Homo sapiens: one gene and its partners. The protein of the gene in region 1 purifies or fractionates together with the protein of each later gene. This does not show direct contact. Each region holds a gene or a part of one and is shown in the gene's direction. Other genes may lie near its edges. The genes, in order: SUGP1, DHX15 and CTPS2.

The links.
Region 2: the proteins of SUGP1 (region 1) and DHX15 purify together in Homo sapiens (affinity purification with a luminescence readout; 2 studies listed by BioGRID and IntAct, with this or other methods). This does not show direct contact.
Region 3: the proteins of SUGP1 (region 1) and CTPS2 purify together in Homo sapiens (affinity purification with mass spectrometry; 2 studies listed by BioGRID and IntAct, with this or other methods). This does not show direct contact.

What each region holds. Positions count from the first base shown.
Region 1 is NC_000019.10:19,302,833-19,310,802, reverse strand, and holds part of SUGP1 (SURP and G-patch domain-containing protein 1), read left to right. Parts: intron 1-602; coding exon 603-706; intron 707-4,726; coding exon 4,727-4,954; intron 4,955-6,955; coding exon 6,956-7,079; intron 7,080-7,354; coding exon 7,355-7,455; intron 7,456-7,970.
Region 2 is NC_000004.12:24,526,364-24,532,913, reverse strand, and holds the end of DHX15 (ATP-dependent RNA helicase DHX15), read left to right. Parts: coding exon 1-50; intron 51-3,143; coding exon 3,144-3,313; intron 3,314-4,872; coding exon 4,873-4,990; 3' UTR 4,991-5,439; downstream 5,440-6,550.
Region 3 is NC_000023.11:16,701,954-16,709,923, reverse strand, and holds part of CTPS2 (CTP synthase 2), read left to right. Parts: intron 1-83; exon of another isoform or gene 84-113; coding exon of another isoform or gene 114-200; intron 201-1,405; exon of another isoform or gene 1,406-1,505; intron 1,506-2,426; exon of another isoform or gene 2,427-2,515; intron 2,516-6,982; coding exon of another isoform or gene 6,983-7,021; coding exon 7,022-7,187; intron 7,188-7,970. UniProt on the Homo sapiens protein: Catalyzes the ATP-dependent amination of UTP to CTP with either L-glutamine or ammonia as the source of nitrogen. Constitutes the rate-limiting enzyme in the synthesis of cytosine nucleotides.

The sequences.
Region 1 (7,970 bases):
GTGTGGTGGCACATGCTTGTAATCCCAGCTGCTCAGGAGGCTGAGACATGACAATCTCTTGAGCCTGGGTGGAGGAGGTTGCAGTGAGCCAAGATTGCCCCACTGCACTCCAGCCTGGGCGACAGAGTAAAACTCTGTTTCGGATAGATAGATAGAGAGGGAGAGAGACAGAGAGAGAGAGACATGTAGGCCCTGCCTTGGAAAACTCTAAGGTCTAGCAGGAGGACAGACATGAGTCAGTAACAACCCAGATAATCAACTAGCAAGGGAGGACAGGTGCTGTGCAGAGAGAGCAGGAGCCATCTTGTTGGAGGGCCATTTGGACCTGGAGGGTTAATATTCAGGCAGAGATAATACATGGAGTATTGCTTTTATCAGAACAAGATTGTTCCCAGCTTACCGTACTGAAGCCTGCTGTGCGCACTTCGCAGTAGTCTCTTGAAATCTCTGGGGGCCAGTTTGGGGTCCCAGTAGGTGAGAGTGCTGGGGTGAGTTAGGGGCCATGATGGACGAGGTGATGGCCTCATCCTCATCCTCGTCCTCTGGTGCCCTCACTCCATCTCTAGCCAGCTCACCCTCTCTGTCCTCTGTCTTGGTTCTAGAATCACAAATGCACACAACTCTTCCTGCATTTCCAACAAGTTTGCCAACGATGGTAGCTTCTTGCAGCAGTTTCTGAAGTTGCAGAAGGCACAGACCAGCACAGGTGAGTGTAGGCCTCCCCTTTCCTTGTGCTGTCCTTGCATCTCCCCCTGGGGTTGCTGGGCACATGGGAAGTGATGGGTCCCACCTCAGACTCCTGCTCACCGGTAATCATAGATCGCCCTCATTCCACCCATGCGTGCACCAAAGGCATAAATAAATAAATAATACATAAATAATTTTTTTTTTGAGACGGAGTCTCGCTCTGTGGCCCAGGCTGGAGTGCGGTGGCGCGATCTCGGCTCACTGCAAGCTCCGCCTCCCGGGTTCACCCCATTCTCCTGCCTCAGCCTCCTGAGTACCTGGGACTACAGACGCCCGCCACCACGCCCGGCTAATTTTTTAAATATTTTTAGTAGAGATGGGGTTTCATCATGTTATCCAGGATGGTCTCGATCTCCTGACCTTGTGATCCGCCCACCTCAGCCTCCCAAAGTGCTGGGATTACAGGCGTGAGCCACTGTGCCCGGCCTTTTGTATCTTTTTAGTAGGGACTGGGTTTCATTGTGTTACCAGGATGATCTTGATCTCCTGACCTCGTGATCTGCCCGCCTTGGCCATCCAAAGTGCTGGGGTAATAGGCGTGAGCCACTCCGCCCGGCCAGTAATTTTTGTTTTTTTGAGAGGGCCTCACTCTTGCTCAGGCTAGAATGCAGTAGTGCAATCATAGCACACTGCAGCCTCAACCTCCGGGGCTCAAGCAAACCTTCCACCTCAGCCTCCCTGTAGCTGGGGCTACAGGGGCATGCCACCACACCTGGCTAATTTTTTTATTTTTTGTAGAGTTGTGATTTCGCCATGTTGGTCACGCTGGTCTTGGACTCCTAAGCTCAAGCAATCCACCTGTCTCAGCCTTCCAAAGTGTTGACATTACAGGCAGGAGCCACTGTACCCAGCCCAAGTAATAAATATGTAAATTAATACCAAGGGGGCAGGCTGGGCGCAGTGGCTCACGCCTGTAATCCCAGCACTTTGGGAGGCCGAGACAGGCGGATCACCTGAGGTCAGGAGTTCGAGATCAGCCTGACCAACATGGTGAAACCCTGTCTCTACTAAAAATACAAAAATTAGCCGGGCGTGGTGGCAGGCGCCTGTAATCCCAGCTACTCGGGAGGCTGAGGCAGGGGAATCGGTTGAACCCAGGAGGTGGAGGTTGAGGTGAGCCAAGATCATGCCATTGCACTCCAGCCTGGGGGACAAGAGCGAGACTTCGTCTCAAAAAAAAAAAAAATTACCAAGGGGGCAAATGTAGACCCTGCACTCAATGTGCTTACCCTGTAGGAGCAGAGACAGATAAGTCAGATTTCAGTCTGGGGCAGGTGGAGCCATGATGAAGCCTTCCCCACACTTGTGAGACCACTTTGGGAGATGGGAGGCATCCCCAAGCTGGGTCAGCTTGAACCCACCAGCAGGGGTGAGCAGGTCTTCTGCATACAGGGTTTTCAGAGACACCGGGCTGGCCCGAGACACCTGAGCTGCATCAGAGAACAATAGGTTCTGGGGCCTGCTGCGGCTGAGGTGCCGGGTGGGCACGCAGCTGGGGGCACCCAACAATGACCACCAGGGCACTAGTGTTCATCGGGTACCACCCCGTGTGCCAGGGAATGTGGACTCAGTGCCTGCCATGTCCCTTGCTCCGTGCAAGCAGACCACGTCTGTGCTCTCACTGAATCCTCTGGAGGGACACCTCTCTCTACCTCTGTTTCCCTTTGGTAGACGTCTGATAACACACGTCGTATTCTCTTCACTCAGAATTCATAGATGTCGGCTGGGTGCGGTGGCTTATGCCTGTAATCTCAGCACTTTGGGAGGCCGAAGGGGACAGGATCGCTTGAGCTCGGGAATTCAAGACCAGCCTGGGCAACATGGCTAAGTCTCCTCTCTACAAAAAAAATACAAATAATTAGCCAGGCATGGTGATGCATAACTTTAACCCCAACTAATGGGGGGGCTGAGATGGGTGGATCACTTTTGGGCCTGGGAGGCGGAGGTAGCAGTGAGTGGAGATCACGTCACTGTACTCTAGCCTAGGAGACAGAGCAAGACTCCATCTCAAAAAAAGAAAACAAAAAAGAATTCATAGATGTAACATTTTGCCTTTGATACTTCTGATCTTTGTTAATCATGAAAAATACTCACTGGGCACAGTGGCTCACGCCTGTAATTCCAGCACTTTGGGAGGCCGAGGCGGGTGGACCTCCTCAAGTCAGGAGTTCGAGACCAGCCTGGCCAATGTGGTAAAACCCCGTCTCTACTAAAAATACAAAAATTAGCTGGGCATGGTGGCACACCCCTATAATCCCAGCTACTTGGGAGGCTGAGGTGGGAGGATTGCACGAACCTGGGAGGCAACCAGCTCTGCTCACGTGAGCTGAGCTCACGCCACTGCACTCCAGCCTGGGCAACAGAGCGAGACTAAGTCTCAAAAAGAAAAAAAAAAAAGAAAAATACCAGAGGTTGAAGTCCTCCCATCCCCCTTTCTTACAGGAAGTAACTGTCGAGAAATTGTGTGTCTGACAACCCCTGTTGTCCTCTCAGTCAAGCAGTGTGTGCCGTAGTTTCAGATGTTTGACCCTTTATGCAGATGACGACATAGTGTGCGTTTTGTTCCAAGCTTTTTTCTCTTACTCGACGTTATTTTTTTTAGGTCTAGATGGTCCAACTAAATCTCATTGAGTTCTGTAAGCAGCTGGTTACCTCCATTTCCACACTTTCCATTTAGGAAGCTAAGGCTTAAAAAGATGAAGCCCCTGCCAGGCATGGTGGCTCATGTCTGTAATCCCTTTGAGAGGCTGAGCTGGGAGGATCGCTTGAATCTAAGAGTGTGAGACCAGCCTGGACAGCCTAGCAAGAACCCATCTCTGCAAAAAATAAAAATAAAATTAGCCAGACATGGTGTCGTGCACCTGTAGTCCCAGCTACTCTGGAGGCTGAGCTGGGAGGATTGCTTGAGCCCAGGAGTTCAGGAGGTAGAGGCTGCAGTGAACCATGATTGCACCACTGCACTTCAGCCTGGGTGATAGAGCAAGACCCTGTCACTAAAAAAAAAAAGATGAGGTCCCCAAGTGCAGAGCCAGCATCTTTCATGATCCGGGGGCCCTAGTCCTGCTCTCAGGGTGGTGAGCTGGCCAATTTCATGATGCTGCTCCCCACCAGACTCAGGGCTCTTCCTGAAGCTGTCACACACCAGCCTTGCCCCATCCCCTGCCTTGCTGTGGGTGCTTCTGCACTGTAGGTCCTCTGGACACCAAAGTGTGGGCTAGAATGGCTGGTCTCCAGGTCCTCACCTGGCCCCCTTGTCAGTGCCCCAGGGGATTCCCGGCCTTCTCCAGTGGGCAGCAATGCCTGTGCAAGGAATGGGACCCCTGTCTGTAGGTTGGTCGCCTACAGGTGTGCAGTGTGATATGCCAGGTGGGTAAATCGTCACCCGTGGAGCTTCTGCCCATGTCTCTGATTTTGGGGTTTACCGACCAGAGCCCATTGTTGCTGGTGAGACAGCTGGTCTTCGACCTCTGTCAGGTTTCCCAGGGAACAGCTAAGAAAAGTTAACCCAAGGCCAAATTCATCCTAGAATGAGGAAGGCTGGTTTGAGTCCCTTCCCCATCAGGTGTCAGGCTGAGAACACCCAGTAGGCTGGCCCCTGGCCAGTCAGCCTGGCCACAGACCTCCAAGGGAATGGTTGTAAACTGGGATTCGGGGACTCGGGTCTTACCCGGCAGAACTGACGTTCTGTCCCCAGAACTGTCCCCAGTCTGTGGGTGCAGCGCGACCGAGATGCCTCCAGCCACAGCGGCCCACTTCAGAGCCCCAGGCTGCTGCTTTTCTGGCTGGGGGACCACAACGAGTCCTTTTGCTCTTTGCCTCACTGTCCCCATCTGTAAAATCAGGGTGGCCTCCTCTGAGCCCCTGAGTTCTGGAAGTCAAGGACCCAGCTCCCCCGGGGCCCACAGCACCTAGGTTAGGTCGGAAGCCGGGAGAGGTGCCCTGCAGATCCCGAGTGCGCATATCCTTCCTTCTATACCAGACGCCCCGACCAGTGCGCCCAGCGCCCCTCCCAGCACACCCACCCCCAGCGCTGGGAAGAGGTCCCTGCTCATCAGCAGGCGGACAGGCCTGGGGCTGGCCAGCCTGCCGGGCCCTGTGAAGAGCTACTCCCACGCCAAGCAGCTGCCCGTGGCGCACCGCCCGAGTGTCTTCCAGTCCCCTGACGAGGACGAGGAGGAGGACTATGAGCAGTGGCTGGAGATCAAAGGTAAGTTGTGGGAGCTGCTGCTCCCCCACCACCAGTGCCCGTGCTCTAGCAGGTGGGATCTGTGGTGGGCAGGGCAAGTGCTGCCAGGGGCATGGGTGCTTTCGGCTGAGTTGCAGCCACCAGACCTCTGAGCTGAGCCTCAGGCCCTCTGAGGTGAGGAGAGCAAAGGAGGGTGAGGGGCGGGGCTGGGGTGTTGCTGGGCATCAGCGCGTGGGCTTCATCTTGGGAGCAGCGGGATCCATCTTCCACTCACACAGCGGCTCATCCCAGCCAAGGCAGGGGCGCACGCCCTTCTCGCATTTGCTCCAAAAGGGCATCCTCACATCCCTTCTAGGAGGAGCTTCTAAGGCTCTTCCGCTGAGCCCTTGAGGCCCCAAAGCACTGCCCCTCACCATGGGTTACCTGTCCCCTGAGTTTAGGCCAGAGGTATGAGCTGCAGGTTGGAGGGTGCTCTCTTCTATCCCTGGGAAAGGACGGTCACTGGTCACGGGTGAGCTTGTCCAGACCGCCCAGTGTAGGAGGGCAAAGGGGGGTGGCTGTGGTGACAGCATTGCCAGCAAGTCCAGCCCTGTCCACATTCAGGACGAGTCCCTGTGACACCTGAACTGTGTGAAGGGCTAGCCGGTGAGGTCACATCACCCTGACAGCACAGACTGAAGCGACTGTGGAGTTGTGCCATGACAGCCTTGAGATCCCTTGCTTCTGGCTGTGTGTCCGAGCGGATCAGAGGCCAGCTTGGCCCCCGGGCCATTAGAATGGAGCTGGCGTGTGTCCTTTCCTTAAAGGGGTGCCCCAGCAGCTCCAAGGGTACCCTGTTGGGAACTGCTGCATTACAAGGGGTATTGGCCATCTCGGGGCCCTTGAAGCCCATTATGACCCACTGTCTGCATGGCCTCAGAAACGCACCTGTTCCTGTAAACAGCAACCAGGTCAGGATTGTTGCTGGGCCCATGGCAGGAGGGCGACCTAGGGTGAAAGACAGTCACGGAATGCTCTCGGGACCTCACAGGGGCCCTCGTTGGGCTACACACTCCCCACCTCTCCCCCATTCCCAGCAGCCCAAGCAACAAGGGGAATAAGATTAGCCACAGGTCTGGCATGTTGCCCAGTTGCCAGGCACTTGCTGGCAGCGAGAAATTTCTCTTGTGCATCTCCTACAAGGACTGCAGTCTGTGTAGTAGCTGACAAACTCACAGCCTCAGAAACAGGCCAAGGGAAAAATGCAAAAGCAAGTTCCACATGGCTCAGTGGGGAGGCTAATCCGTATATAAAAATATATCTTTATAGCTCTGTTCACTGAAAAGGCCCCGAAATAATGATTAAGCCTGTGGCATTGAGCATCCCTAGCTCCCAGATGCTGGTCTGGAGATGCAGTTTCTCATGGAAACCGACTTCTTGGAGAAGTGGCTGGCTCTGGGTCTGGGCAGGAAGTGTATGAGATGATCTTGGAGCGCCTGTCCTGGCAGATGGCAAGGAGGCCATCAGAGACTCCTGGGGCCATGTCCAGAGCCCTCAGGAGCCAGCTTGAAGAGGTTCCACCGGCCGCAGAGCTTCTATGATGACACTAGTTGCCATGGATCGAAACCCACCCAGTGTGTTTAAATCAGAGCTCATAATGGTATTTTTTAAAAAAGAACGTGTCATCTTTGAAGGATGAAAGGGAACCGATGTATTATGCTGAAAACTGGTAAAGAAAGAAAAGAATTAAGCATTTCCCCCACCAAAACCAGGGGAAGCTGGATATATTTTCTGCTAGCTTCCAGCCTGGAGCTCACCACAGCCTCACACACTTCTCTCCCACCTAGTGTGTCTCACCAAGACAGTGAGACCGACTCCCCCCTCGTCATGGTGTTTTGTGCCTGGACTCGGGACGCCCGACAGCCTCCTGCATCTCACACTCTTCTCCCCCCACCCCCTCTGTCGTTGTGGTCCATAGAGAGAGTGTGCCTATTGACTGTGGGGTGTGTGAGTTGAACCCCAGTACTGACAGCCTCCTTAAAGTTTCACCCCCAGAGGGAGCCGAGACTCGGAAAGTGATAGAGAAATTGGCCCGCTTTGTGGCAGAAGGAGGCCCCGAGTTAGAAAAAGTAGCTATGGAGGACTACAAGGATAACCCAGCATTTGCGTGAGTATCTCCGGGGAAGGGAAGGCTGTGCTGTTGAATGCGTTTGCTGCACAGTCGCACGTGTGGGGCTGGGTGCTTGCTAGTGTGGGCCGGATGCTGTTCCAAGCGTTTTCTGATTCTCACCAGAAGTGACAAGTGGCTCCCATGTGGCACGGAGACTTGCTTTCGGGTCCCTGCTCGCCAGCCTGCCTTTTTTTGCACGATAGAAGCTGCAGGGATATGCCTGTCACAGATACTTATTTTCCCCTCTCTTCTGCAAACTTCCTCCTCTCCAGATTTTTGCACGATAAGAATAGCAGGGAATTCCTCTACTACAGGAAGAAGGTGGCTGAGATAAGAAAGGAAGCACAGAAGTCGCAGGCAGCCTCTCAGAAAGGTAGGTGGACGGAGCGGGTGGGAGATTCTGGGGAGGCCTGTGGACATACCGTGCCCCAATGCGGAATCGGGGTTCCTGGAGGTGCTGGAGTGGCACTGTGTGGCACCGGTGGTTGAGGCCTGTATTCTCCCAGGCATCTGGGGTCACTCTGGGAATGGGTCTGACACCACCTTCCCCCTCAGTGCTCCAAGGACCTGGTGAAGCCTGAGTGTCAGGCCACATTGTGGGGTAGACGGGAGCTCATGGAGGTCGAGGTCGCTTCTGGGAGAGCGGTTCAGGGCAGTACCCTAGGTAGAGGGGGCTTTTGCTTGTTGGTTCTTTGTTACATTAACAAGTGTTGATGAGCCCCAGCTTCCTCCTGGGCACTGAGGACAGGGCAAGGCAAGTGTAGTGTAGGGCCGAGGGCCTGGGGGACAGACACTGTCAGCTGGTGCAATTCTGATGGGATGAATTTCAGGGGAAGGGGAAATACTGGCTGGTCTTTGACTGCAATGACATAAAATCCCAGCCAAGTG
Region 2 (6,550 bases), on another chromosome or scaffold:
ACTATTATATTAATATAAGAAAAGCTTTGGTTACTGGGTATTTTATGCAGGTATGTAGATAATATGGGAATGAATAACTAAGTATTCATATGACACTGATTTCTATTAACAGTCCTTTGAATCCACTCAAAAGCAAAAGTGAGTTTGTGCATGCTCATAAAAATTTATCTTAAATGTTGGTACATCCAGTTTCTTTGAGTGAATTAATATACTAAGAAATTTTAAGTATTTAATGAGTAACAAATTAATGTACTAAATGGCTAAGGTAGTCTAGTTATACAGGAATCGTTTTTAGAATTATTTTATTAATAGAGCCTTTGTTATACAAAATGGAAACTTTGGCTACTTTCAGATGTGATTAGGCACCTGTTTCTTCAGGAATGTGAATATTGATCAGTGCATTAAAGTTTCTCTGAATCTAGGGCTTAATTGGAAATACATTGTCATAACAGAGTACTAAAAGGAAGCAATTGAGCGGATCCAAAAGTACATACAGTTGGCTTTAGTCTTTATCTAAAAACTAAGCACCTCCAAATTCAAATATTCAAATACGTGGATTTCATTTACAGTCCTCTACAGAGTGATCATTGGTAATTATGACCAAGACCCTTGCGTACTGCAAAAGCCAAAAACGTCTGTTGAGTAGCAATAAAGATGAAACATAATTTAAAAGGTTTTATTTAGTTTAAGTATGCTGTGTTAACGGCTATAAGAACAGAAGTAAAACTTGTCAAGTAAATACTGTGAACAGTTATTTTAAGGTGTTTATAAAATAAGAGAAACTTTGAGAAAAATGCAAGAAAATTTTGTGGTGATAAAATTGAAAACAAATCACCTGATTTGGGATAAGTCTCTTCTATCTCTTTTCTGTTTGTTCATTCTCTCTTTGGCTGTGTCTTTTAAGCACGATGTGGCTTACCCTTAAGGCCAGATGGGCTCAGTAGCTAGAATATGAGCCTGAGGACACTCAGTTTCAGAATCAAAAATCAAAGGAGATTGGTGAGATGTCTGTATTTGAATCTAAGTAACACAGTGTTTATTGTGGCATCTTATTATATAATAGGCTTATTAGAGTTTGGTGAATGATAGGTATGAGCATTCTTTCTTGAAACTCTTAACTATATTCTTAATATTTGATATGTTGTACTGGCTTCTCTTTGACATGTTCTGTTCTTTTTTAGGGGGAGGGGATGGGGTGAGGGAGGCAATGTCTCACTCCCAGGCTGGAGTGCAGTGGTGCAATCACGGCTCACTGCAGCTTTTACCTCCCTGGGCTCTGGTGATCCTCCCACCTCAGACTCCTGAGTTCCTGGGACTACAGGCACGCACCACTATGCCTAGCTAATTTTTGCCTTTTTGTGTGTGTAGAGAGAGGGCCTCGCCACGTTGCCCAGGCTGATCTTGAACTTCTGGCTTCAAATGATCCTCCTACCTCGACCTCCCAAAGTGCTGAGATTACAGACGTGAGCCACCAGGCCTGGGTTGACATGTTCTTAAATTTGCTTTTTATATTTCAGAAAAAAACTGGCCGGGCGCTGTGGCTCACGCCTGTAATCCCAGCACTTTGGGAGGCCGAGGCGGGTGGATCACGAGGTCAAGAGATCGAGACCATCCTGGCTAACATGGTGAAACCCCGTCTCTACTAAAAATACAAAAAATTAGCCGGGCGCGGTGGCGGGTGCCTGTAGTCCCAGCTACTCGGGAGGCTGAGGCAGGAGAACGGCGTAAACCTGGGAGGCAGAGCTTGCAGTGAGCCGAGATAGCGCCACTGCACTCCAGCCTGGGCGACAGAGCGAGACTCCGTCTCAAAAAAAAAAAAAAAATTGATGAAACTATATTCAAGCATTATACTTCTTAATTATGTAGATTAAAATTTGTTACAAACAGCTAGGCACCACAGAGTGTGCTTGTAGTCCTAGCTACTAGAGAAGTTGAGTGGAGAGCAAGGAGCGTTGAAGCCAGCCCAGGCAACATAGGAAAACCCTATCTCTTTTTAAAAACAAACAAAAAATTTATTAGAAACAGCATGCATTATAGTACCTGACACCTAATAGGTGTTTAGTAAATATTTCGAATGAAATTGAGTTTCTTTTCTATTATTCATGCTCATTCTTTAAGCACAGAATATTAGAATTGGAAAGGGAGAACTGTCCATTTTGATGAGTATCACCAGTCAAGGTGTTACCAAAAAAAGAAATGAGAGGGAAGCACGTGCAAGCTCTTTTTTTTTTCCCATTTTTATTTTCCTGTCTTTGTAGGTTACCTTTTTCTTTTCCTCTTTGCCCTCTTTAGTTTTCTACCTTATTTTTTATTCTATTTCTTTATTTTCTTTTTTGAAATGGAGCCTCTCGGTCTGTCGCCCAGGCTGGAGTGCAGTGACTTGATCTCAGCTCACTGCAACCTCCGCCTCCTGGGTTCAGGCAATTCTCCTGCCTCAGCCTCCTGAGTAGCTGGGATACAGACACCCGCCACCACGCTTGTCTAATTTTTGTACTTTTAGTAGAGATGAGGTTTCACCGTGTTGGCCAGGCTGGTCTCGAACTCCTGACCTCAGGTGATCTGCCTGTCTCAGCCTCCCAAAGTGCTGGGATTACTGCACCTGGCTTTAGTTTTCTACCTTAGACATGAATGTTCTGGTAATTGTCTGCTCATAGTTGGCGCCCAGTGCTGAAGAGCCTGCTCTAGATGGTCTCAGGCAGGAAAGATCAGATAGTAAATGTTGGGCTCTGTGGACCCATGAAGTCCTTGTCAAAACTACCTAACACTGCCTGCTCTTGGAGCATAATAGGTATAGACAAATGGGCATGCCTGTGTTCTAATAAAACTTTCCTTATGGATACTGAAGTTTGAATTTTACATGCTACTCATGCTTCACGGAATGTTTTTTGTATGATATTTTTTCTTTCTAATTAAAGATAAATAAACCATTTTGGATTCACAGACCTTACAAATAGAGGCTATGAGTTGGATTTGGCCCACAGGCAGCAGTTTGCTTATCTCTGCTTTTATCAGACAGTGATAAATAAGTATAGCCATAGAATGAAAAGTAAAAGGGAGGCCTGCCTCTTCCTAATTATGTAGGTAGCTTTACAACTAGCAAGTCAGAAGCATTGTATTAATAATATACTGGGTTTTGGTTTCAGGTGGCACATTTAGAACGAACAGGGCATTACTTAACTGTGAAAGATAACCAGGTGGTTCAGTTGCATCCCTCTACTGTTCTTGACCACAAACCTGAATGGGTGCTTTATAATGAGTTTGTTCTAACAACAAAGAATTACATCCGGACATGTACAGATATCAAGCCAGAATGGTAAGTACACCTTTTGTTCTAACAGTTTTTTGTTAGTACTTTGCTCAAAATGGAACCTGACTGTTGCTAGAGTCATGGCCTTGCATTCACTCATTGAGAATTTATATTTCAGTGTGTAGGTATGAGGGAATTGACTGGATGGTGTGATTAATCTTTCACACCCTTCCTTTGTTAAGTGGACAGTGGGATTGTTGATATTTATGGGCAGGATTTGAAGCCAAATGTGAAGTTACATTTGAATAGCATGAAAAGTTTCTTCAGGGGCTGGGCATGGTGGCTCACACCTGTAATCCCAGGACTCTGGGAGGCCAGGATGGGAGGATCACTTGAAGCCAGGGGTTCAAGACCAGCCTGTGCAATATAGCCAGAATCCATCTCTACTAAAAGATATATAGGTGTGTACAAAAATTAGCTGGGCATGGTGGTGCTGCACGTCTATAGTCCCAGCTACTGGGGAAGCTGGGCAGGAGGATTGCTTGAGCCCAGGAGTTTGAGGTTGCAGTGAGCTATGATCATGCCACTGTACTCCAGCCTGGGTGACAGTGAGACCCTGTCTCTCAGACATACTTTTAAAAAAGGGTTTTTTTTTAATTTTTTTAATTTTTAGAGTTTCTTTGGAGCCATTCTCTTGCTGTTGTGATTCTCAAGTCAGTACTGTTTCTTGCTTGCAGAAATCTGTTTTTTTTTGTTTTGTTTTGTTTTTTAACATTTTTTTTGTCCCATTACAATTAGCCCTCAACTATTTATTATTTATATATTGGTTTTTAGGAACTGTGCAGGCATAAAAATGATAGCTCTTTGTGTTTTAACATACTAGCTTCTACAAAATGTAGAGTAAGAACGGATTGTTTTATTTTAAGCAAAATAACCCTCACCTTCATGGTTTTTTGTTTTATTTATGCCAGAATCTATTCTATAACCTATGACAGGAAATGTCAGCCAAGAGTAGTGGGACTGAAGGCACATATTCTAGGTGCTGTCACCGCTTTATATTGTGCAGCTGCTTTCTTATACGGATTTGGGACTTTTGACACTTAAATTGTGTAGGACATTACCATTTTATCTTAAACGCTTTGTTGAGAAAAAAATTATATAGCTAAACTTTATAAAAGATTTCAGTCAAGTGTATTTTGGGGGTATAGAGTTACAGTTATTAAAACATTGAAAATGAAAAGATCCAATCATTTGAATACCACGATGTTTCCTACACAGAACCTGTTATATATTACTATATCCTTGGAGTGGCAAATTAATAGTGTGCCAGAGTAAAGAAATCAGTGACTTTATCTGTTATCTTTACATTAATGTATCTTGAGGGGTTTGTTATTAAGTTTATGGTAAGTCCAACATCAGAAAATTCACATCTTACTAAATAAAATACTTAACACATTTCTAAAAGTGCTATTTGTAAGGATTAGTTATTTGTATTTTTCTGAGACTTGAATTCATAGATTTGCCTTGGTTCATCAGTATATTAATGAATAATGCCTATCCTATTAACAACTCCAGTACTTCAATTAAATGTTAATTTGGAAATTTTTCTGCCCACTTCTAAACAGGTTGGTGAAAATTGCCCCTCAATATTATGACATGAGCAATTTCCCACAGTGTGAAGCAAAGAGACAGTTGGACCGCATCATTGCCAAACTTCAATCCAAGGAATATTCACAGTACTGAATTCAGTGCTTAGAACTGAAGTTATTGAGAGGACAGCTTTAAAAGATGAATGAACTCAAAAGTTCGAGTTGTGCTCTTCACGTTGGTTCGATAATGGCCTTTATTTGAAAGCTTTTTAATTTTTCTTTACAGTAAATATTCCATTCTGATTTCATAAATTAAACATTTATGCCTCCCTTTTGTGTTGACACTGTAGCTCATACTGGAAAAGTCGATCAATGTTTTGCAGTTTATTGAAAGTAGTTCTATATATAACAATGTTATAAGCATTTCTTTAGAAATGGTTGAAAATGCTTCTAAAATGTGATTATCGACCATGGTATGCATGATCGTTGTAATTGTTGACATTCCTTTTAGAAGTTGTGAAATGTTACAACTTGTGCTTATGTAGACACAATCTTCTGTCTCAGTACAGAGGCACTGACTTCAATAAAGTCTATTTATACTAATTTTGGCCAAAGCCCTTTGGTATCTTTGTTCTAGTCTCTAAGTATAGTTGTTTTTCAAGTGTGGAGCTTTTTTATTATTATAATTATACTGTTACTACATATTTAGTATCTTTCTACCAGGAGTACTCCTTAGGAAAAGTAGCTGTTAAAGCAGTATTTTTAAGAGCATGGCTTAGCGCTTTGTTAGGTTAATCAGGATGTGATCGATCTAAAAGGGGTAAAATGTGTGTAGTGATCATTTGAAACTGGACCCCAAAAGAGAGAATAATGAAAGGAGAGCTCTCTACTTGTCTTTCTTAGAGTTCCTTTCATAAGGCTCATAATTTATTAACTACATTTTTGTCAGATGTTTTTATTATACTTCTAGCTTCTCAAACACGTTTATTAGTATTAGGTAAGAGGAAAGCATATTTTAGATCTCAGTTTAACAAAATTCTTAGTGATGGAAGTTTTATGCAGTATACAAAATAATTTGTATAGTGTGTTAAAATGTACATTTGACCTTCCATTTTCTATGACAGGCAGTAGACAAGTTGAAAACTTGTCTACATTCATTTTGGAATGAAAATTGAGGTGTTTTATGTGGCCCATAAAATGTTTTTTAATCAGTTATTTTCATATGAAGACTAAATACTGTACTCATTAGTCTGGACTTCCCTCTTCTTCCCCTCCTACCTTTATAAGTTTTTAAGTGTTAAAGGAAATATATAGGTGTGTGCCTGGCATTTAAATATACTTGGTAACTAGCATGTGACTTAGGGAGTTGGGCAAGTTAACTCTTTGAAGCTAACTAGTATGCTTTTTAGTGTAGGTAGGTGTTACTAAATGATGCCTAGTGGCTTGAAAAAGTTAATGTGCCTTCTATAAGTGCCTCATTTTGTTCCCATGGAATAATTTACATGGTGGAATAATACTTCAGGTTACATTTAAATATTGGTTAGATATTCATGCAACATTAAGCATTGGCAACATTGCCAGAATGTCTTAAAGTTATGTTGAAAAAGTCTAAGTACTTGGTCAGACTGTTCTCACTGAAATGGCAGCTCTCACCAGAGGAATATTTTGCTTGTTAATTTAAGCTGCAAGTGTAGTTTGTAAGTTGTTGTGTATC
Region 3 (7,970 bases), on another chromosome or scaffold:
TATTAAGACATAACATGGTGTATCTTTGACCAAATTAAGATAGAAATCTGTTTTTTTTTTTTTTTTTTTTTTTTTGGAGACAGAGTCTCACTCTGTCACCAGGGTAGAGTGCAATGGCACGATCTTGGCTCATTGCAACCTTCACCTCCTGGGTTCAAGTGATTCTCCTGCCTCAGCCTCCCGAGTACCTGAGACTACAGGTGGGTGCCACCACGCCTGGCTAATTTTTGTATTTTTAGTAGAGACAAGGTTTAACCATGTTGGCCAGGATGGTCTTGATTTCTTGACCTTGTGATCCGCCCGCCTTGGCCTCCCAAAGTGTTGGGATTACAGGCGTGAGCCATTGCACCCGGCCATAAGATGGAAATCTTAGTGGTGACAAATAAAATTTAGATCTTAGTTTAAAAAAACATAGTCAATAATATATTCAATTTTATAGTCTGCTCTCTTTTTCAGGTAACATAAGCATTTTCTTTCTTCCTTTTTTTTTTTTTTTGAGACACGGTTTTACTTTGTTGCCCAGGTTGGAGGGCACTGGCACAATCTTGGCTCACTGCAACCTCCACCTCCCAGGTTCAAGCAATTCTCGTGCCTCAGCCTCCTGAGTAGCCGGGATTACAGGTGCACGCCACCACACCTGGCTGATTTTTTGTATTTTAGTAGAGATGGGGTTTCCCCATGTTGCCCAGGCTGGTCTCGAACTCCTGAGCTCAGGCAATCCGCCCGTCTTGGCCTCCCAAAGTGCTGGGATTACAGGCGTGAGCCACCGTGCCCGGCCACATAAGCATTTTCTTTTTTTTTAACTTTTTTTTTTGAGACGAAGTCTCGCTCTTGTCCCCCAGGCTGGAGTGCAATGGTGCTATCTGGGTTCACTACAACCTCTGCCTCCCGGGTTCAAGCGATTCTCCTGCCTCAGCCTCCCAAGTAGCTGGGATTACAGGCGCCTGCCACCACGCCTGGCTAATTTTTGTATTTTTAGTAGAGACAGGGTTTCACCATGTTGGCCAGGCTGGTCTCGAACTCCTGACCTCAGGTGATCCGCCTGCCTCAGCCTCCCAAAGAAGCATTTTCTTATACAAAAATTTATTAGGCATAATGTGACTTGTACGAATGTATGCCAGTTTTCTTCACCATACCTCTACGGCATTTTTCCATTTCGGTAACTTTTACAAAGAGAGTCATTTGAACAGTATAACAGTGCCAGAATAAGGTATAATTAAAGCACAGTTTATTTGCCCCTTAATCCTGCAGGAAAGGTGAAGTCCAGTGGAACATAGACCTTGTCTTTTTGTTTATCTCCATATTCCTAGGACTTGGAAATATGTCAAGCATGTAATAGATGTTCAAATAAACATTATATATGTAATATATGTATATATATAATTTATTTATTTATTTATTTCAGACGGAGTCTCACTCTGTTGTCCAGACTGGAGTGCAATGGTGTGATCTTGGCTCTGGGTTTGGATTGACAATGTTTTAAGCTATAAACATAGGTCAGATAGGTGGGTGCCCTGGTGACTAGTGAAGATGTGCGATGGCATTGAATGTGATCAACTGTGTTGTGTAGAGAAAGGTAGGCCCAGGGACTTAGGGAGGCCATCTGGGATGGAACATGTATATTTTGAATAGCTTCAGTTTACTCAGCCTGACCATGGTCAGCTAGTTCAAATGGAATTCACAGCTCTGACGTGTGATAACTTTAGTTAAGATAGTTTGTTTTGAAAGGTAAGCAGAGGAAACCACAAAATCAGAATGGGCATTCCTTTGAGGAGGACAAATAAGAAGTGGGTAACTGAAATTGTTCCTACCCGAATGCATTTGTGCTGAATTTCCAAGTATGTAAAAAAATTGTGAAATTACAAATGAAAGTGAAATTTATAGTTATTACCTTTTGTTAGTTACTGTCTCTCTCTCTCTCTCTTTTTATTTTTTCTTTTTTGGTACCGAGTCTCACCCTATTGTCCAGGCTGGAATGCAGTGGTGTGATCTCAGCTCACTGCAACCTCCGCCTCCCGGCTTCAAGTGATTCTCCTGCCTCAGCCTCCCATGCAGCTCATGTAGCTGGGACCACAGGCACACGCCACCACGCCCGGCTACTTTTTATATTTTTAGTAGAGACATTGTTTCGCCACGCTGACCAGGATGGTCTTGAACTCCTGACCTCAGGTGATCCGCCCGCCTTGGCCTCCCAAAGTGCTGAGATTACAGGCATGAGCCACCGCACCTGGTCTCTCTTTTTATTTTTGAGACAGGATCTTGCTTTGTCACCCAGGCTGGAGTGCAGTGGCACAATCACTTGGCTAACTGCAGCCTTGACCTCCTGGGCTCAAGCAATCCTCCTGCCTCAGCCTCCCCAGTAGCTGGGACTACAGGTGTGTGCCACCACACCTGGCTAATGTTTTATTTTTCTTTTGTAGAGAGGGAGTCTCACTATGTTGACCAGGTTGGTGTCGAACTTCTGACCTCAAGAGATCCTCCCACCTCAGCCTTCCAAAGTGTTGGGATTACAGATGTGAGCCACCATGCCTGGCATTATTTTTCTTTTTCTGTAACTGTAATTTTATATTGTGGTCTTACTCAGTTGCCCATTTGCCTGCCATGAGTACACAAATAATACTGTTTATGGTCTACTTTCACATACATGGTGAAATTACAAGAGCAGAAGGCCCCTGTACACACTCAAGGGAAAAACAATAGTACTCAAAGTAAAGAAAATCAAGTTATTGGGCTTCCTATAAAACAAAAGGGTTTGAATCAGAAAGCAGCAGAAAAGTCAAATAAATTTTCCTTATGACTGTCAACTTAAAAATCACAAGATCTATAAATTTAGAAAGGAGACTTTCTTTTTTAAAACATTTTCTTTTCTTTTTTTTTTTTTGAGACAGAGTCTCACTCTGTTGCCCAGGCTGGAGTGCAGTGGCGTGATCTCAGCTCACTGCAACCTCCGCCTCCCAGGTTCAAGTGATTCTCCTGCCTCAGCCTCCCGAGTAGCTGGGATTACAGGCGCATACTACCATGCTCGGCTAATTTTTGTTTGTTTGTTTGTTTGTTTTTTTTTTGAGACAGAGTTTCGCTCTTGTCACCCAGACTGGAGTGCAATGGTGCGATCTCAGCTCACTGCAACCTCCTCCACCCAGGTTCAAGCAATTATCCTGCCTGAGCCTCCTGAGTACCTGGGATTACAAGTGCCCACAACCACGCCCGGCTAATTTTTGTATTTTTAGTAGAGATGGGATTTCACCATGTTCGCCAGGCTGGTCTTAAACTGCTGACCTCAGGTGATCCACCCGCCTTGGCCTCCCAAAGTGCTGGGATTACAGGTGTGAGCCACTATGCCCAGCCTAACTTTTGTATTTTTTAGTAGAGACAGGGTTTCATCATGTTGGCCAGGCTGGTCTCAAACTCCTGACCTCAGGTGTTCCGCCTGCCTCAGCCTTCCAAAGTGCTGGGATTACAGGCATGAGCCATTGCACCTGGCCAAAATTTTTCTTACCTTTCGAGTCGGAGTCTCACTCTGTTGCCCAGACCGGAGTGCAGTGGCACGATCTGGGCTCACTGCAACCTCTGCCTCCCAGGTTCAAGTGATTCTCGTGCTTCAGCCCCGCAAGTAGCTGGGATTACAGGTGCCTGCCACCACACCTGGCTAATTTTTTATTTTTAGTAGAGACAGGGTTTCACCATGTTGGCCAGGCTGGTCTCGAACTCCTGATCTTAAGTGATCTGCCTGCATTGGCTGCCCAAAGTGCTGGGATTATAGGCGTGAGCCACTGTGCCTGGTGACTTTATTTCTTTTCTTTTCTTTCTTTCTTTTTTTTTTTTTGAGGCAGAGTCTTGCTCTGTCACCCAGGCTGGAGTGCAGTGGCACAATCTCGGCTCACTGCAACTTCCGCCTCCTGGGTTCAAGCCATTCTCCTGCCTCAGCCTCCCTAGTAGCCAGGATTACAGGTGTGCACCACCACACCCAGCTAATTTTTGTATTTTTAGTAGAGACAGGGTTTCACCATGTTGGTGAGGCTGGTCTCTAACTCCTGACCTCGTGATCCACCTGCCTCGGCCTCCCAAAGTGCTGGGATTACAGGGGTGAGCCACCACGCCTGGTTTACTTTATTTCTTTGCAGGCTGTAACAGCCTGCAAAGGGGCCATCCCACAGGCTGGGAAGCACACGTTTTAAAGAGACAGGGTCTCGCTATGTTGCCCAGGCTGTTCTCAAACTTCTGGCCTCAAGTGACCCTCCTACCTTGGCCTCCCAAAACCAGAGGCAGGCACTCTGAAGGAGGGTTCAGTTTTATGCTGAATGGGTTGGCTAAATATACATATTCAACAGGTTACAGGAGGAGCTATGAATATTCATGAAGGTGGTCCTGACTCATGTGTATTGAATAAACATGAAAATAGCATATGACCCCTGTTCACTTTGGGGATGGAGACTTAACATTTAAATGAATTTCAGTTAAGCCCTATGCATCAAAAGATCTTTCCAGGACATGAAGGCACGCAAGTCCACAGCCTCTGTAAACTGGCCAGAGCCAGTCCATGGTTGGTGGTCTTATCAGGAGAAAGTTACTCAAATCAGTCTCTTGTCCAATAAAAGCTGTAGTTTTGACTGGTGTAACAGGACTCAGTCAGTCAGCATCTGTGAGCTAGATGAGTTGTAATTATTTTAATATTGCTTATTTAAAAACAGTTTTTATTTTTTATTTTTTTGAGACAGAGTCTCGCTCTGTTGCCCAGGCTGGAGTGCAGTGAGCCACTGCACCTGGCAAGACTTTTTTTTTTAGAGTAATTTTAGGCTCACAGCAAAACTCAGTGGAAAGTACAGAGTTCCCATACACCCTCTCCCCCACTGCTATGCCCAGCCTCCCTGACTATTAACATCCTGCACCTGCAGAGTGGTACATTTGTTATAATCAGTGAACCTACATTGACGCATCATTTTTGCCTAAAGATCATAGGTTTTTGTTTTGTTTTTTTGAGACGGAGTTTCGCTCTCATTGCCCAGGCTGGAGTGCAATGGCCTGATCTCGGCTCACTGCAACCTCTGCCTCCCAGGTTCAAGCGATTCTCTCTTCCTCAGCCTTCGGAGTAGCTGAGATTACAGGCATGCACCACCACACCTGGCTAATTTTGTATTTTTAGTAGAGACGGGGTTTCTCCATGTTGGTCAGGCTGGTCTTGACCTCCCGACCTCAGGTGATCTGCCCGCCTCAGCCTCCCAAAGTGCTGGGATTACAGGTGTGAGCCACCGTGCCCGGCGGAAAGTCTGTAGTTTATTTACATCAGGGTTCGCTCTTCCTGTTGTCCATTCTGTGGGTTTGGATAAATGTGTAATGACATGTATCCATCATTACAGTATTATACAGAATAGTTTCACTGCCCTAAAATTCCTTTGTATTGTGACTATTCATCCCTCTCTCCCTCCTACCCGCTGACAACCACTGATCTTTTTACTATCTCTCTAGTTTTGCTTTTTCTAAAATGTCATATAGTTGAAGTCATACAGTATGTATGTTTTTCAGATTGGCTTCTTTCACTTGGTAATATGCACTTGAGATTCCTCCATGTTTTTTCATGGCTTGGTAGCCCATTTTTTTTTAACACCAAATTATATTCCTAGAGATTGTTGTATATTTTCCACTTTACAGATGAAGGAATAGGCACAGAAAGGATAAATAACTTGCCCAAGGCCGGGCGTGGTAGCTCACGCCTGTGATCCCAGCACTTGGGGAGGCCGAGGTGGGTGGTCACTTGAGACCAGGAGTTCGAGACCAGCCTGGCCAACATGGTGAAATCCCATCTCTACTAAAAATACAAAACTTAGCCCAGCATGGTGGTGCATGCCCGTAATCCCAGCTACTTGGGAGGCTGAGGCATGAGAATCATTTGGACCGGGGAGGTGGAGGTTGCAATGAGCCGAGATTGTGTCACTATACTCCAGCCTGGGCAACAGAGTGAGACCCTGTCTAAAAAAAAAGAAAAAAAAAAAAAAAAGAACTTGCCCAGGTACAGTTTGTACAGATCAGTCTGACACTGGAGTCTGAGCTCTTAAACATTTTAGCATGCCTGTGAATCCTAGAGAAATTTGGTTTATCATGATGAAGTTTGTTGCATGATAGAGTTGAGGTCTTTGGAAACCCAGGGCAACAGACCTAGGCACTTTGCTTGCAGAAGGTATCTACAGCTTTCTGTATAGTGACAACAATAAAAAGCCTAGAAGATAAGACTTTGTTTCAAAAAATTCAAGTATTTAGTTTGGACAGAAAACTGCTGTGTGCTTTTGAAATTTTGGTGAGACGAAGCATGGTGGCTCACTTTTGTAATCAGCATCTTGGGAGGCCAAGGCAAGAGGATTGCTTGAGCCCAGGAGTTTGAGACCAGCCAGGGCATCATAGTAAGAACCTGTCTTTACAAAAATGTTTTAAGAATTAGCTGGGAGACGTGGCACGTGCCTGTAGTCCCAGCCACTCTGGAGCCTGAGGCAAGAGGATTGCTTGAGCCCAGAAGTTCAAGGTTGCAGTGAGCTATGAACATGCCACTGCACTCCAGCCTGGGTGACATAGGGAGACACTGTCTCTTAAAAAAAAAAAAAAATTCTGAGCTAGGTGCGGTGGCTCATGCCTGTTATCCCAGCACTTTGGGAGGCTGAGGCAGGTGGATTGCTTGAGCTCAGGAGTTGGAGACCAGCGTGGGCAACATGGTGAAACTCCGTCTCTACAAAAAACCCACAAAAATTAGCAGGGCGTGGTGGTGCTCACCTATAGTCCCAGTTACTAGGATGCTGAGGTGGGAGGATCGCTTGAACCCAGCGAGCAGAGGTTACAGTGAGCCATGATTGCACCACTCACTGCATTCCAGCCTGGGTGACAGTAAGACTATGTCTAAAAAAAAAAAAAAAAAAAATTAATTCTGGTTGAATACACTGTCTGCTTTACTAGTTTTAAATATTTCTCTTTCCTTATCCATAATTTTATTGCCTTTCAGATTATATCTGGGTGTTGGCACCCAGCCACTATTCTGCCAATGAAGTACATCCTGGTCACGGGTGGGGTCATCTCAGGCATTGGTAAAGGGATCATTGCCAGCAGCATTGGAACGATTCTAAAATCATGTGGACTCCGAGTTACTGCCATAAAAATCGACCCCTATATTAACATCGATGCTGGCACTTTTTCACCTTATGAACACGGTACGAAAGTGAACCACTTCCCCCTTATAGCACTAGGCTCAACTGCATTCTTTCTTCCATTTTGGGTAATTTCTTTAGGATGTAGTTCCAGATTTAGAGTGACTAGATCGTATGCTATGAATATGTGAATTTTCTCATGGTCATTGATACATTGTTCATACCTCTGATGACATTCCAAATTAATCATCCCTTTTGGAAACATTGTATCTTTTGCACTACAGATTCTGTTTTATTTTTAACATAAAGGTAGTGTGTTTCTCTTAACATTTCCCACTGCCTGGAGTAACTATTATTAATGGTGACATTTTGATGTATGAGTATATTTGATTTATTTTTAAAATGGCATTAGCCCTTACATGCTATTTTTAAAAAACTTTTTATAAGGCCCAGTGCGGTGGCTCATGCCTGTAATCCCAGCACTTTGGGAGGCCGAGGCAGGTGGATCACGAGGTCAGAAGATCGAGACCATCCTGGCTAACACAGTGAAACCCTGTCTCTACTAAAAATACAAAACATTAGCTGGGCGTGGTGGCACGTGTCTGTAGTCCCATCTACTCAGGAGGCTGAGACAGGAGAATCACTTGAACCTGGCAGGCGGAGGTTGCAGTGAGCCAAGATCGAGCCATTGCACTCCAGCCTGGGCGACAGAGCGAGACTCTGTCTCAAAACAAACAAACAAACAAACAAACAAAAACAACAAAAAACCAACCCCCAAAAAAACCTTTTTATATACAAGCAAAAAAGTGCATAAATCATAAGTGTACAGTTGGATGAATTTTCATT